2 separate regions of the Homo sapiens genome follow, and region 1 is linked to region 2. A link means that fine-mapping ties the variant in region 2 to the expression of a gene that starts in the linked region. Tissue or cell type: blood mononuclear cells. Region 2 holds a variant in brackets; the other region holds the start of a gene. All regions are shown on one strand. Distances are from middle to middle.

The links. PIP is the estimated chance that this variant, and not a neighbour inherited with it, causes the effect.
Region 1: LAMA2 starts here. The variant in region 2 is fine-mapped to the expression of LAMA2 in blood mononuclear cells (TOPMed, PIP above 0.99). The same link has a PIP of 0.9 or more in whole blood.

Annotation. Positions count from the first base shown.
Region 1 is chr6:128,878,069-128,886,194 of GRCh38, reverse strand. LAMA2 (laminin subunit alpha 2) reads right to left here and starts at 3,057. Exons shown (of 65, transcript NM_000426.4): 1 at 2,838-3,057. The coding sequence starts at 2,949.
Region 2 is chr6:129,277,084-129,285,083 of GRCh38, reverse strand. LAMA2 (laminin subunit alpha 2) reads right to left here. Exons shown (of 65, transcript NM_000426.4): 18 at 4,937-5,023. Among named protein-coding and RNA genes, the nearest start is that of LAMA2, 400 kb to the right of the region's middle. The variant G/C (reference allele first, on the strand shown) is at 4,045.

The DNA.
Region 1 (8,126 bases), 400 kb after region 2:
AGCCACCTCTATCAATTTTGGACCACATGCAGTTCTGATAAGCTTGGATTTTACATTTTCCATCAAGCCATTACCAAGATAGTTGAGTATAAGAAAACCTCTGTTGCACTGCTAGAGACTTCTTTCCGGATTGACCTTAATCCACTATGCAATATTCTTTGTGAACTATTTTTCAATCAGTTGCAATTTACCTGCCATTATGCTTCAGTTTCCACATATTATTCACAAGAATATCAGAAAACATTTTAGACACTGCCTTGCTGAAATGCAGAATCATTTTGATTGCATCATTCTATTTCGTCAATTTTAAATATAGCTAAAGAATTTCCTTGGAATATCATTCTTGCTGAATCAATGCTATTCATACTACAATCGAGTATGCTATAGAAACCACATAAGATTTCAAAGAAAAAGTAAAAAACAAAAAGTCTGGTTATGTTTCTAACTCAACTGCAACATCTAAAAATGGTTGATTCATGTCAAAAATTCTTAATAAAGTGGTATCGAATTATAAGGGGAAATAGAACTTCTACACAATTAGCGCTTGCCTAGAAAGGTCAGTGCTAGTATAATCGAAAACAGAAAAGTTGATCATAGCCAGGAAAACCCTTCTCCAGTCAAACTCATATCCCGTGATTTTCACAGAGGGCTTGCTTCAATGGAACAACACTAAAAAGAAAACATGGCCTAAACAATTAATGGAAAGAAACCTTGGAACCATAAAAAAGGGAATTCAGCACAAACAATACCGGAAGTGTTTTAGTTGTTGAAATAAAGTTATTATTATGTAAACTTAAATTACAACTACTGGAAGCCTAAGTTCTAAATTTGTCCTTTGAGAATAATAATATCTGAAGGTGAATAAAGATCGTGTACATAAGGCATTTTTAAATCATAAATCACTATCCAATTTTAAAGTTTCATGAATTTTACATACTTTCAACATTAACAGGTTTAAGTCATTTATCCTTGAGCCAACCTCCAGATATATTGTAAATGGTCTATGACAAAGACAATAATATATACTAGAATGCAGATTATAGCAGCCTATAGTAGATTGTATGTTGTAGCTATTTTGAATAAAATTCCTTATTGTATGTAGCATTTAAGTGGTATCTTGACAGAATGGTAGTATAAACCCTTCCTCCTGAATTCACTTCATCTTGTGCCTGGGTCATAGAAATCAGAGTTAATATTACCTTATTTGAAAAGAGAGTAAATAAGAAGGGAGAGGAAAAAAGAGAAATCCTGTGTGTGTTCAGGATAATTCTTAGCAACAATTTACTTGATCCTTACTCTGCATGCTTTGAGTTTCTGCCCCATTCCAAGTGGACATAAGGATTGGTGCCCCTGGCCCCTCATTTCTCCCAGCTGCCTAACATTATTAAAGTATTATGTCTTGTTTAAACACACCTTGTAATTGAGCAAAGTTTAATAGTTAAAAGTAGAATTTTTAAAAATAAGTGGCCAGAGATACTCTTAAAATCACTCTCGTAAATTATATTAATTAAGTCATATTGGCCCCATTTTACCTCTCAGAGAAGCAAAAGCAAAAATAGAAGGAAAAAAGTTATATAGTGAATGCAAGGTCATTTTTATTCCAAGAATTTTAATCAGGGAGTTATTATTATAGAAAGAGCTTGGGATATCTCTTTACTCCTTAAAAAATAGTACTGCTAAAAATGCTAGATTATAAGAACAAATATCAGAACTATTGACTTGGCTAGAAGTTAACTGGAAGAAGGATAAGTATACTTCAAAACTTAAGCAGATTCAGCCTCATTAAAACTTTTAAAAGCTTCTAACCTACAGATTTTGTACTCTTAGGTTAAACATTTTCATATTTAAAACCGAATAATAAATATTTCTTTTTTTTTTACTTTGATACAGGTTTTCCAACTTAAAGAATTGTTTGCTGAAATAATGTGTTACAAAGTATGTCTTACAATGCTGCACATGTGCTTCCTGTAAAATTCATGATAATAAAATAACTCTTCAAAGACTCCCCAAAGTTTCAGAAATGAGAGCTATATATACATAAACACTAAGAGGCTCTGAGGAGAATAAGTTATTTAAGTTACATTAAATACAGCCATCTTCCAAAGTCCTCCAAAGTGTATATCTAGTCACTGTGGCCTTAAAGTACACATGACATAGAAGTCTCCTCTGTATTTAAGCAAAAGGAGAAATTTCACGATTTCACTACAATAAAATAGGATATGAAGATAAGATGTGGGTTTGAAAAAGGTGAGGCTGGAGGCGCCATTGCCATGAAAGAAAAAAAACCACATAACTTCTTTAGAAATCCTGTTTTAAAAGTTGAAAACAAAGTTCTGTAAAACTTTATATATATATATATGTGTGTGTGTGTGTGTGTGTGTGTGTGTGTGTGTATATATATATATATAATTTTTTTTTGATGCATCAGCTACCCTCCATAAAGTCCCAGGATGAACCACACAGCTTGGGAAGCCTTTCTCTGCAGGATGGGCTCTGATTTGAAGAAATTCTTTTTTTTCCAATTGGAAAAAGTTTTCCTCTTGGAAAGATTTCAGAAATCAATTTACGGGATGTATCGTGATAGCAAGACCTCTTCGAAACTAAAGAACAATGAAAAGCACTCCCCGTTCCTTTTGCAGGACTTAGGTAATTCCCCCTACACTACGCTCTCATGGCATTGAACTTGAACTTGCTTCAAGTTCCTCTTGCCCCAGAGCGCACTCTCTGAAGGCGAAGCAAGACGGCAGTCCACAGACAGCAACTCTCGGAAGAGTGGAAGAAGTGAGGAATCTCGGTCCCGGCAAAGGATGCAACCCAAGCCCATGCCTCGACTGTACCTCTTTGCTGATGTGCCTGTGACTGCCGCTGCTGCTGCGGCCGCTGCGCCTGTACGCCCCCGAGGCCTCCGGAGAGCAGCAGAAGGAGGAGGACCCCGGCGGCTCCCGGCATCGTAGTGGCCGCGACCGGATCCACTTCTCGGGAGCCAGAGGAGTCGCTGCCGCCCTGTCCCCTGGCCTTGGCTTGTGAGCTGAGCGAGCAGCAGCTGCTGGGGAAGAGGAGGAGACAGCCCCCTCTGGCTTTGGCCGGGCCGCCGCCTGAGGGTGGGGGAGAAAGAGGACACTCCTCCACTCTCGCCTTCCATGGGCACGCGGCCCCAGGACGGCCCTCTATTAAAGGATCCTCCTTTCCTAGAGCGCTCCTTCCCTCTGAGACCGGATCATTCCTAGCTTGACCTGGTATCTGAACTTCTTTTAAATTAAAGAAAGTAATTGACATGAAAGCACTTTGAAATCTGTAAAATCCCTACACATGGAAAACATTATTTCTGGGAAATGCAAACAGCTAGGAACTTTTACCTCTTGAGAAAGGCCTGGCAAAACTGTGTGCAGCCACTGTGTACCTAGAAGATCCAAGACATCCCCAAGGCCAGAGTGTCTGAGAAGTTACTAGCCGAGGGAAGGTGCCCTCTGGGGACACTGCAGGCTGGGGAACTTACTGCTAGGTAGGCTGCTGGGAGGGCAGTAAAGGAAGTGCAAAATAAAACAGCCACCCTGGCGTCCCTGAAATGTTCCTGACCAAACTAATGGTTAGAATGAAGGCTTTCAGTTCAGTTAGGAGACATTTACTTAAAGGTAATAAAGGCCTTTGCAATAGTTTCCTTCCAGACTCACAATTTCATCTCTTCCAGTCCTGGTTTCTCCTCTTTCTCCTCTTTAACTCAACAGAACTACTGCCATTCCTAGTTTTTGTTGTTTTTTCATTTGTTTTTTATGGCCTAGGTCAGTGGTTCTCATAAGGTTTAAAACAACTCCATAATGGATTTTGTGAGTCGCAGGATGTCTTTTGGTTTACTCCGGGAACGGTGGGTACTGCAGGCATTAGTGTACTGTTGGGTCAGGGTGTGAGCTGTCCCTCAGTGGTCAGGACAGTCCTACAACATATTTTGTCCTTAGACTTCTGAATGGGCCACTGGTCATTTATGTAGTGAGTAAACAAACAAACAAAACAACAAAACCTTGCCTTATATTTGAAACCTAATTTAAGTTTGTTTCCACATCAAATTTTTGTGTGTGTTTTTTGTTTGTTTGTTTGTTTTTTTCTAGGATGCATCTACTATATACATTGAGAAGATAATTTACTTTGTGTTTTTGGATTTTACACCCATTTGTCAATGGGTGTAAAGATGTACTTTCAGAGAAGCACATCACTGATAACAACCTTGCCCATGGTACTTGAGTCACCAGCACAATATCAACATCCCATCGATTACACTGGGGTCATCTAAGAATAGGTGCAAACTTTTATTTTATTTTGCCTCCTAAGGAAGTTTTACCCAAGCATTTATATGTTGAAATACATATTGTCTTATATAGATAGTTTTCTTTTTTATAGTTAAGATGTATTGATTTATCTAAATATTATATTAAAGTTGAATTTTCTTTCAGTAAAATTAAGAGAGTATTGCTTTGAAGAGAATTGATTGAAAATCACTAGCCAAAGCCCATTCTTTAATATTATTCATGTCTTTTAGTTCTGTTAATATTATACCAGAAAGCTTTGTAATCCTTTTACCTTACTGTGGAAATTTGCAAAATGTAGTCTGCCCATGTCTGCACACTTATACATTATTTATTATTATAATAAACAATAATAAAACTTATATTTGAGAGTTTATTATAATTGAAGCCCCAGTGTTTTTAATTTGGTCTAATTTTGCCTAGAAGTGTTTTTCAGGTACATCTAATAGCAGAGAGGCACCCTAAATTAACCTTCTAAACCTATTGCTATTCTCAGAATGATTATTTTTACTCAACCACGTTGTGGCCTCAACTCAAATTAGTTAATCTAATAAATAATAAAAAATATTTATAAAAAGGAAAAGTTTTATTGAATATTTATAAAAAGGAAAATGATTATTTTTACTCAACCATGTTGTGGCCTCAACTCAAATTAGTTAATCTAATAAATAATAAAAAATATTTATAAAAAGGAAAATCAGAATGATGCAGCTGCTAACTCTAATTGTGGAATGAAAATATACCATGTTCCCTCTATCCCCTTCCTCTTTACATTTTCCCAGGATTTTATAATCAATATTTGTACCTGCTTTTCTGCAGTTACTGCAGTTACCTGAGTTCCTATTTTACATGAAAATGCCTTGAGAATAAGACTATGATCTCCACTGTCAACTCTACTTGTTTGATTCAGCACATGGAAAAAATTCTTAAATATTTAACCCAAATTAAAATGAACCAGTATATTTAGAGCTATATTTTTTCCAAATAAACCTAAATAAGGTACAATTTACACACAATAAATATGCTCATTTGAAACATTTTTTAGATGTAAATACTCATCTGACAAAGTACCCAATACATAGTCTATTTCTATAATCTCAAAAAGTTTTCTTTCTGACCTTTTGCAATAAATCCCCCAACCTCCATTCCCAGAAAAAGGCAACTGCTGATCTAATTTTGTCACTATAGATTATAACTATTCTCATATTTCATGTAAATACAATAATAAAATAGTAATCTTTTGTGTCTGGCTTCTTTCACTTTGCAACATGTTTTGGAGGTATAGTCATGTTGCTTATATCAGTAATACATTCCTTTTCATCTCTGAATAATATTCTATCATTCTAATAGTATCTATCATTCTATATCGTATGGATATATCACAATTTTTTAATACATTCAACTATTAAAGTACATTTGGGTTGTTCCAGTTTGGGGCTATGAAGAATAAAATTGCTATGATTATTTAAACACAGTGTTCGCATGGACATGTTTATATTTCTCTATTCCTATCAAGTCTTAGGAGTTATATTATCAGGTATGTAATTAGCGCTATACAAAACTGTGAACCTCTTTTCCAATGTTGTTTTATAATTTTACATTCCTCCCACAGCAATATATAGGAGTTCCAGATGCTCTATGGCTTTATTAACATCTAATATTGTTACATTTTAGCCATTCTAGTGCTTGTGTGGTGATACCTCATTGGTGGTGTCATTTGCACTTCTTTGATGATGCTGAACATATTTTCATGTGCTTAATCGTCATTTGTATATCTTATTTTGTGAAATTCTTCTTGAAATCTTTGCTCATTTTGCTTTGTTTGCCAGATTATTAATAAGATTTAAATACATATTCTAGAGAAAAGACCTTTGTCAAGTACATTTACTATAATATGTATTGTTCTCAATCTGTGGCTTGACTTTGCATTTGGAGTGCTTTCAAAGAGCAGAAGTGTTTAATTCTGATTAAATACAATTTATTAAATCATTCATTATGCTTAATATTTTTTGTCCCTTTCAGAAATCATTGCCTACACCAAAGTTGTGAACATTATCTTCTTTATTTTTTTTCTAGAGATTTTATAGTCTTAGCTTCTACAGTTGGGTCTATGATTTATTTCCAGCAAATTTTGGTGTTTGCTGTGAAGTAGAGGCTTAGGTAAGGGCTTTCTTTTTCCATGTAGATATCCATTCACTTCATCATCATTTGTTGAGAAAGATATAATTTCCTCGTCTAATTACCTTGGATCTTTTTTCAAAAGTCAATTGACCACGTGTGGGTCTATTTTTGGACTCTCTTTTCATTGGCATATATATATATATATATATATATATATAAAATGGCATATATATATATAATGGCATATATATATATAATGGCATATATATATATAATGGCATATATATATATATAATGGCATATATATATATATATATATATATATATATATCTCCTTATTCCACTATCACAGTCTCTATTACTGTAGCTTTACAGTGAGCCTCAAAGTTAGGTAAGGTAAATCCTATAATGTTGTTTTACAAAACAAAATTATCTTTACTATTTTAGGTTCTTCACATATTATGTAATATTTAGGTAAAAATCTATTCATTGGTGAAGTTGAATATTTTATTTTTTAATTTTAATAGACTATTGTTTAGAGCTGTTTTAGATTCACAACAAAGTTGAGCAGAAGGTACAGAGATTTTCCATATACCTCTGACCCAACACATTCATAGCCTCCCCCTTTATCAACATGCCCCATCAGAGTGATATATTTGTCACAACTGAAAACCTACATTGACATATCATTATCACTCCGATTTCATAGTTTACATTAGGTTTTAATGTAATTTATAATTACATTAAATTTATAATGACATGTATCCAACATTACACTATCATATAGAGTAATTTTACTGCCCTGAGATTCCTCTGTGCTCCACGTATTCATGCCTCCTCCCTGTCCCCACCTCCAAACACTGGCAACCACTGATCTTTTTACTGTCCCCTTAGTTTTACCTTTTCCAAAAGGTCATATATTTGGAATCATACAATATATAGCCTTTCAGATAAGTTTCTTTCACTTAGTAATATGCATTTAAGTTTCCTCTTTTCATGGCTTGATAGCTCATTTCTTTTTAGCACTGAAAAAATATTTCGTTATCTTGAAGTACCACAGTTTACTCATCCATTCATCTAATGAAAAACACCTTGGTTGGTTCCAAGTTTTGACAATTATTGATACAACTGCTATCAGCATCTGACCTTTTGCAATAAATCCCCCAACCTCCATTCCCAGAAAAAGGCAACTGCTGATCTAATTTTGTCACTATAGATTATAACTATTCTCATATTTCACATGTGAAGGTTTTTGTGTGGACACAAGTTTCCAACTCCTTTGAGTAAATACCCAGAAGCACAATTGCCTGGATCATATGGTAAGAATATGTTTAGTTTTCTTAAGTCCATATAATTTTAAATATCAGCTTATTAATTTCTACCCAAAAAAGGAGAGTAGGGAACATGATTGTAATGAGGTTGGACCTACAGATAAATTGTGGGATAATTGATATCTTAGCAATATTTAGACTTCCATTCACAAATATAGCCCGTCTTCATTTATTTACATGTTTAATATTCTAAGCAGTGCCTTATAGTTTTGAATGTACATGTCTTTTGGGTTTCTTTTTTTTTTTTTTTTTTTTTTTTGAGACAGAGTCTCACTCTGGCCTAGGTTCAAGCTATCCTCTTGTCTCAGCCTCCCAAGTAGCTGGGATTACAAATGTGTGCCACCAGGCTTACCTAATTTTTGTATTTTTAGTAGAG
Region 2 (8,000 bases):
ATCACAGTCCTTTGGTTTTTCACTCCACCAAAAATAATTGTAATGTGAAATGTCAAGCCCTCTCATTTTCATATGCAAGGCAGAATGAGTGCATTTTTAAAAATAGTTTATCGAATGAATGCCTTGCTAGAAACGGATATCTTGACATAACAAAGGCATTGTTCCTTTCCACATCTGTTAACTTTTTCAAATCAAATTGCAATATTTTGAAAAAGGGCCGTTTAAATGTAAATAAGACTCCAGATAACACATGCAGTTATTTGTTACACTTGCTGCTATTGATAATTTAGGAACAATGTTAGAGGGAGGGAGGGAGAGAGGAAGAGAGAGAGGGAGAGGTAGAAAAAGAGCGGACGTGCAGACAAGCAACAATGAGAAGAAAGCAACCACACTGATGAGACTTTTGTCTCATTCTGCCCCATCATTTTTTCAGCAACTTTTGGCTAAAATCACGGCCTACATTTCTATTATCTATACACTGAAAACAATGAAACAATATAATGCTGGCTTAATCTAGCCAAGCAAATTAGAAAAGCTCTGGTTTCTCCCAACCCATTAAAAAAAATCAGCTGAGCACTTTTACACGGTACTAATACAAATAAGGTACAGTCTTCACACTACAGTCCATGGAGAATGAACACACATTTTAAAACGTAGCAGTAGAACAACTGGAGATATGCAAATGCTATTATGGCAGCACACAAAAGGGCAACCAACTCAGATTAGGCCCAATCAAGGACATTTTCAGGATGATAGTGCTGACTTTTGGGAGCTGAACAGGGATTAGTTAGTCTCGGATGGAGGAGTGAAAGGGCTGCAATCTTCCAGGCAGAGGGAACAGTATTGGCAAAGGCACAGAAGAGGGTGGCTGCTGTATAAAGAGGCGTGGCTGTAATGCTGTGTTCTTACTTCCTCCCATTTGACATAATCAGCAAAAGACTGAGGGTGTTTCCCTGCTCACATGGTGCCTTTTACAAGTTGGAAGAAATTGTCCTTTCTAGACATATGCAGAAAAAGTAAACAGACTAGACACCCAGGGACTTCATGGAAAAGAAGAGGGTAAACTGGATTCAAGCCCTCAATCTTCCCCTTCCCTGAGTGCCTTTGTGCAGTGTACAAACTGCACAACCACATATGAGTGGCCTCTTGACACCTCAACTGGAGTCACAATTTTGCTAACAGTACTACAGGTAGGTATAACTGCCCCTCCTCTGTTATTTCTGTAGCCCATGCTCTGCATTCAGGACCCAAAGGCACAAGGAGACTCACAAGTGAATAGAAGGTCCCATGAGCATAGTAAGCAGAGGGGTGATTAGACTTGATTCGAATTCAGACATTCTGAAGCAGACAAAATCTAAATGGGATTTTGGAACTGAAATTTAAGATACAAAAAGGAATTTCTTTGATATCTAGTATGAATCTTGAGGATAAAACTGTAGATGAATTTTCAAAATATTAAGCAATTAGATTCAAACACCTTCCACATTTTCAGTGGCAATTGTGAGATTAGTCCTGGCTTTTGACCCCTCTCTCATCACTTAAGGAGAAGTTGTTAAAAATTTGCCAGCTGGGGAGCGGGGAGGGCTTAAGAAGTCTATGTATCCCATTAAGTTTCATGTTGTCCTATAGAATCCACCAGATGAACTTGCCTGCCTTTTTGAAATGCCTTCTCCATAATGTATGACATGTTGCTGAGGTTACAAACTTATTCTGAAAGTAACTTAGTGTCCGATCAGGCAGGTATCCTCAGCATTTGACTCACTTTTAGCTCAACAGTCTTTTTAATTGCTCTTGATATTCCAATTGCTTACTTAATCTCTTTTAGCCCTTCAAGATTCTGTCTCTTTGTTATTTTTGTTCTCCTCTTGTCCAGATGATAAAAGTCTAGAATCTTAGCAAAGGTATCATCATGAATACCTTCTCCCCTCACTCTCTGACTCTTTTTTTTCCTTTGTTTAAATCATTCCCCAGCAAAGCAGTGATACCTCAAAAATAGTGGTGTTTTGGCCCTAAGTGAATGTTTTCCAAGCTGTAACTAGTGTTCAACTTGTGACAGAATACCAATCCATGTTTTGTTGTATCTTGTTTGGCCATTCCCCTGTTCACTGTTTCTCTTCACCCCCTCGATTCAAGAAGCAAGGCCATCTTGTGCTACATGTTTGAATGAAGGGATTTGACAGGGCAAAAGGCAGAGACATAGGAATCTGCCAGACCCCGAGCTCTGAAAGCCACCAGTTCCACAAATGTAGCTCATCCTTTTTCAAATAGAAAATGGGATGGATTTGGAAAGGCAGATGGAAAAATGATGATGGTAGAGATGTTGGTGGGTCTTAGCATGGAATGAAAGAAGCTGAATGATTCCTGTGCCTCTAAGAATGGAATGAAAGTAGTTGAGAGACTTTCTAGACCTGAAAGGAAAGGTAATTAGGAGGACGGAGAAAAAGGGATAGGTCAGCAGAAACATGCTTGGGTGAAATACTCAGTACTGGCTGGCCCTATCACATGTCCCCTTGCTCAACATATACACACAGACATTATACCCTCCCCTCTACCCTTGCATATAAGGCCTTTGGTACTAGGTAAGCTTAATAGAACTTTGATTCTAGCTGGGAGAGAGGAGAAGAAAACAACTTGAAATGGGCTCAGATTATGTTTCTAAGACCTCACAGTTCCCACATATAGAGAAAGGGGTCTCAAAATAGAAATTAAATTGTGATAAAGACTATAAAGTTATAACTCTTGTCCCACCTGAGCTGTAGTCTGAGATATATTCTTGCTATATAGTTAAAGCAGAGGGTTTATGGCCACATAAGTTTAGGAAATGCTGAGCTAAACAAATTGAACAGATTTCTTAATTACACACTGTAGGACATGCCAGAACTTTTAACATGCAAATGGATGCTTCCCAAACTCATGTGATCACAGAATTCTTTATTCCAGGAACATCTACAATTTGGGAAATGTTGATTTAGTTTTTAAATTCTGGTCTTATTTAGATGATGTGCATAAGCTGATCACACAAATCACTTACAGAATGGTTTTGATTACAAGATTTTTAATGCAACCAGTATCTCCTCCTTACCCTGACCCTTATCTTCCCTCTCTTCTACTTCAACAGGCACATCTCAAACAAAAAATGTTTCCCTCATATTTTAGATCTATCTAAGGTGTTCTTTTGGCTTACATAAATACAATGAAATTATAAATCTTAAATATTCCTGGAAAACCCTAATCTAAATTCTGGCTAGAAAAATATGGTATCAACTGTGGAAAAACTTGAGCTGGAGATAAAATATGCCATTCATTACACTGCATATGCATGTTGCCATCTTCTGAATCAGATTAATACAGATTTTAGACAGGAAATCATACTTTCTGTCAGGTATTTCTCTCCTTGGTGATTTTTACTATTCAAATGGAATTCTCCCAAGAATACAAGCAACCATCCTCACTTGCATTAAAGAAAGATGTGAGGTGCTGAGGGCAAGGATGGGAAAATGCATCTATTTATATCCAATGTCTAGCCTTGTACCCAGCACATGGTAGTTGCTAAACAGATGTTTGTTAAATAAAATGTAGGGTTTTAAATTATAGATGGTTCAGAAACTATTGTCTAACATGTATAGGGAGTATAGTACATAAAGCAAAGCAATATAAGTACATCAGAGATTATGCTCACCTAGATAAGTGGATTTAATAGCCTTGTATGACAGAGCAGCTGTCATTTTCCAGTTGCTAAAAAAAGGTTGCCTGTAGTGAACTGGGGGGTTTAGGCACTTGATGTAAATCTGTCTTGGCAATGATATGTTCTCCTATTATAGTAAGTAATATGCACATGCCTTTCTTTAAACACACACACAGACACACACACACAATTAAAGATATCTAGTTTCTTGATTGCAAATAAATGCTGCTTGTTTCATTTTTTTTTCTTTCATTCCTAATTTACAGATGCTTCCATACTCACAAATAGTACTTGTTGCTGCTAGGAACTGTCATTGGCACTTTGTCCACAGACTGCTAGTTGCTAGCTAAATTCTCTCT[G/C]GGTGATAGGCTCCTGCTTCATTAATTTTATGCATCCTGGTTGAAACAGGGGTGATAGCTGCCAAGATGACAGGAAAAGACGGGCAGAAACAGCCCTCTTCAGGGTTAGCCTCAGTGATGATGAGTGAAAGTAGGTCACTTCCTTTGCACCCCTCCCTCCCAGGAAGGGTGGCAGCAGGGACTATTTCCAGTGCTGAAACCAGAGGGAGGTTTTTGTTTTTGGCAATGATGTCAAGGGGGAAGTTTGTATCACTTTTATGCTGAGGCTGAATATATAGAAGAATTATTTCTTCAAAAACATTTCAGAAGGAAATATAATCACACAAATTACATAAAATAATACTCTTGTTTCTGCTGCAAAGCAACCCAGTAAAATCAACAGGAATTAAAATACTGGTTTAGGAGCAATTAGAAGAGGATATAAATCATGATAATAAATTACATTTTGTTTCTATTTTCAAGTATATTTAAAGTAAATTATGAACCACTTGCTGAACTATGAACTATGCATTTAAGCTACATTTTAAGGACAAAAAGCTAATTATGAAAAATAAATGGTGCCTACACAGACAGTAAGATAAATCTTAAAGTGCATGACTTTCCACTTGAGCAATGCTTTCTACAAAGATTGTAGGTTAATACTTAACCTTTAAGATTAAAACATTAATCAGATATTCTCTGAGTGAATGAAGATTTATGAAGCAATTTCTGAAAAATAAATAAATTACAAAAATATAATGCATTTGTTTGACAAGTGCGTTGAGAAACTTTATTTCACCTCATTGAGTGTGGCCTTTTTTCTCCAAAGGATGATGCAAAGGATGATTGTATCTGCGGTTTTATAACTCCCAAGGTAGAAATCATTTTGCAAGACAGTGTAGTATACTCTTACCTCTCACAGCGTGGTCCTGTGTACCCGACAGGGCATCCATCACAGATCAATCCAAGACTCCGGTCTAAATGGCACGTTGGGCTAAAGCTATGTTGATGTTGTTGCGGAAAACAGGGACAAGGAAGAAGGACATACACAAAGTCATTAGCATTTTCTCATTTCTCTCTCTCCACTACTGCTCTGACAAAAGAGTACAGGCTGGTCATTCTCACCCCAGAGACAGAGATTAGGGTCTGGCCAATGGAGGATGAAATGACATTGCTATTTCTGCAGACGTGAATATAGCCCAGTGGAGAGCAGTATCCCTGTGACATGTTATTAACTGACTTTCGACTGCTCTGAGTAGTGATCATCAGTAACAAGTGGAAATGTATAGCTGCTTTTTAGAAATTCCTCCAGGCCTGGCACATATGCAGCCTCACATACTTTCTTCTGTAGCCAAATCCCTCTGAATTTGAAGCAGCCTGGAGAAATTTGTTAGTGATTTTGGAAATCTCAGTATGTGGTAGTGGTGGTGGCAGTGCTTCCTTCTTCAGCTACTGCCATAGTGGGGCGTGCCTGTGTGCAGGCTGCGGCATGTGCTTCCTTGCAGGTATGCCCTCACACTGATGGAATCCTCAGGAAAGCTTTCAGAAGAGATCAAGTGTGCATATTCTACCTAAACTTATCATAAACCTAACCAAACAAAAGCAACCTTGCCATCTCATACCCTCTGGCATGTTTCAAAATTCACTTCTCTCTTTGCACATATTTCTAATTTGGGTCTGAAGCAATAGAGCTGAACACCAGATGAAGAACCAACAGAGAACTCAGGTGCTAGCTTTAGCTTTCAGCAACATGTTTCACTCCAGCCATGCTTCTTTGCCTTGTGAGAGGCACCTCTCATACATGAACCCCTACCCCAAGATTGACACACGGTAATGCGTTCTCGACTGGCTCTCTGAAGGGCCATCAACCATTTTGAATTCTGTAAGGTCTGTTGCGCTACCGTTTTAAAGGGAAATGCCCTCAATTAATCTTTCTCTTATTATGTTTTCCCTAAGTAGATTTGTTTTCTATTATATATGACAGGGCAATTCAATAGAGACTTGCTTGATGGCTAAATGAATTAAAGACATAACAACAAATTAAACATTCCAAGTCCTGATTTGATCCTGCTCCTGACACTTGAATTACTTTGAAATACTTTCTTAACTTTGGTGCAGATCAGATCATGAACACTATTTCTGAATAGTATTTCTCTGGCTTAACTCAGGGTAGTTCTGTAAAGATTTAATAGTTCTTCCTATTTTTGGGATACTAGCAAGGTATTAGGACCAGGTAAGTCTATCATTTTAAACATTTCAACTCAGTGGAAAGTCTAAATGAATCTGCTGGGTCAAGGAGATAAAGGCTGGTCTGGGATGCTTTGAATTTATAAATATTATCTGGATCAAAGATTCCACATTAAGGAGTTCTGGTAGCTGTGATGAACAGCAGACAAGACATACCCAGCGTGTGCACTGCGAGTAAAGAATCTCCTTTTATAAAGCATCCTGTACTTTGCTACGCATGACCCAAAGACAGTTCACTATGGGTGATTTTCTTGACGGGATTGTGATTGCACTGAAGATGCACAGGTTAAAATAAAATAAAAAAAAAGGATTTCCTCTCATCCACATCCGGTGATTTGCTGTTACTGTTTTCAGACATAAAAGTGAGAACTGCATCTCTGTAGCATATATATGTCTTCTTTGAAAATTGGCATTCTGTAACTATCTCATCATCTACTGAGAAACTGACTCCAACCAGAAGCACTGGGTTTCCCACCTCTGTGGGACTACACTGATTGAAAGAAAACCATACCAATTGTTTTTTATAATCCTAAATCAGTTTATCATAACTCTTGTCAATGGTGGTTGACAAGGCTTCTGACATTTTTAAAAATATTTTATTTTATTTTATTTGAGACAGAGTCTTGCTCTGTTGCCCAGACTGGAGTGCAGTGGTGCAATCTTGGCTCACTGAAACCCCTGCCTACTGGGTTCAAGCGATTCTAGTGTCTCAGCCTCCTGAGTAGCTGGGATTGCAGGCAGGTGCTACCAGGCCTGGCCCATTTTTGTATTTTTAGTAGAAATGGGGTCTCACCATATTGGCCGGGCTGGTCTTGAACTCCTGACCTCAAGTGATCCACCTGCCTTGGCCTCCCAAAGTGCTAGGATTACAGGCATGAGCCATTGCACCTGGCCTTGACACTTTAAAGCTATTCATAAAATAGATTTCAGATTCTTAAATACACTCACATGTCAGTTAAAACCAACATAAGTAAAAGGTGCTCACTGACAAAAATCAACACTTTTTCGAGAAAAAAATTAGGCAATAAAAATATGTTAAATTTGACTAGCTCCTTACAGTTCAGAATACTTTTACAATTTTATCACATTTTCACAAAATCCTATGAGCTGGTTAGGGCAGGCACAGTTTTTCTTAACCAAGGTCATATACAAAATTTCCAGGAGAATTTAGTATGGGATCTAGGACTTTAGATTCTTAATGTGATATTCTCTTCTTCCTATAACCAATTGTCATTGAAACCTACTGGTAAGAATTAAGTAAGTTTAAGTTTCTAGTAATATAGATACTCGACATAACGCATCCAAATAAAACTTTCTCATAAAATATATCTGTATTTGTGCTTTGATATTCTTTCAACAACATAAACTGAAGATTCACTCTCTTATTGCTGTAATTGCAGTTACAGCTATGGCAGAAGATGGCATTCAACAACAAAAATAAAATTAGAGTGAGAAATAAACATGCACAATAAAAAACATCTACAGAATTTGCCTTGGCAAATGCAGTCACTTAGCACTAATTTTGGCCAAGACATGAAGCTAATTGTTCCGTGACACAAAGAGGAAATTGTGAGATCATCATTGACCTCAAGTGATTCCAAGATTATGTCATTTAACTCTATTTGGCTAGCTCCACACCAGCAGAAAATGTTCTTCATCCCGGATTATCCAAACCACGCCACAGGAAACACAAGAAAGCCAAGAGCAGCGGGCATTTTCCACAAATAGGG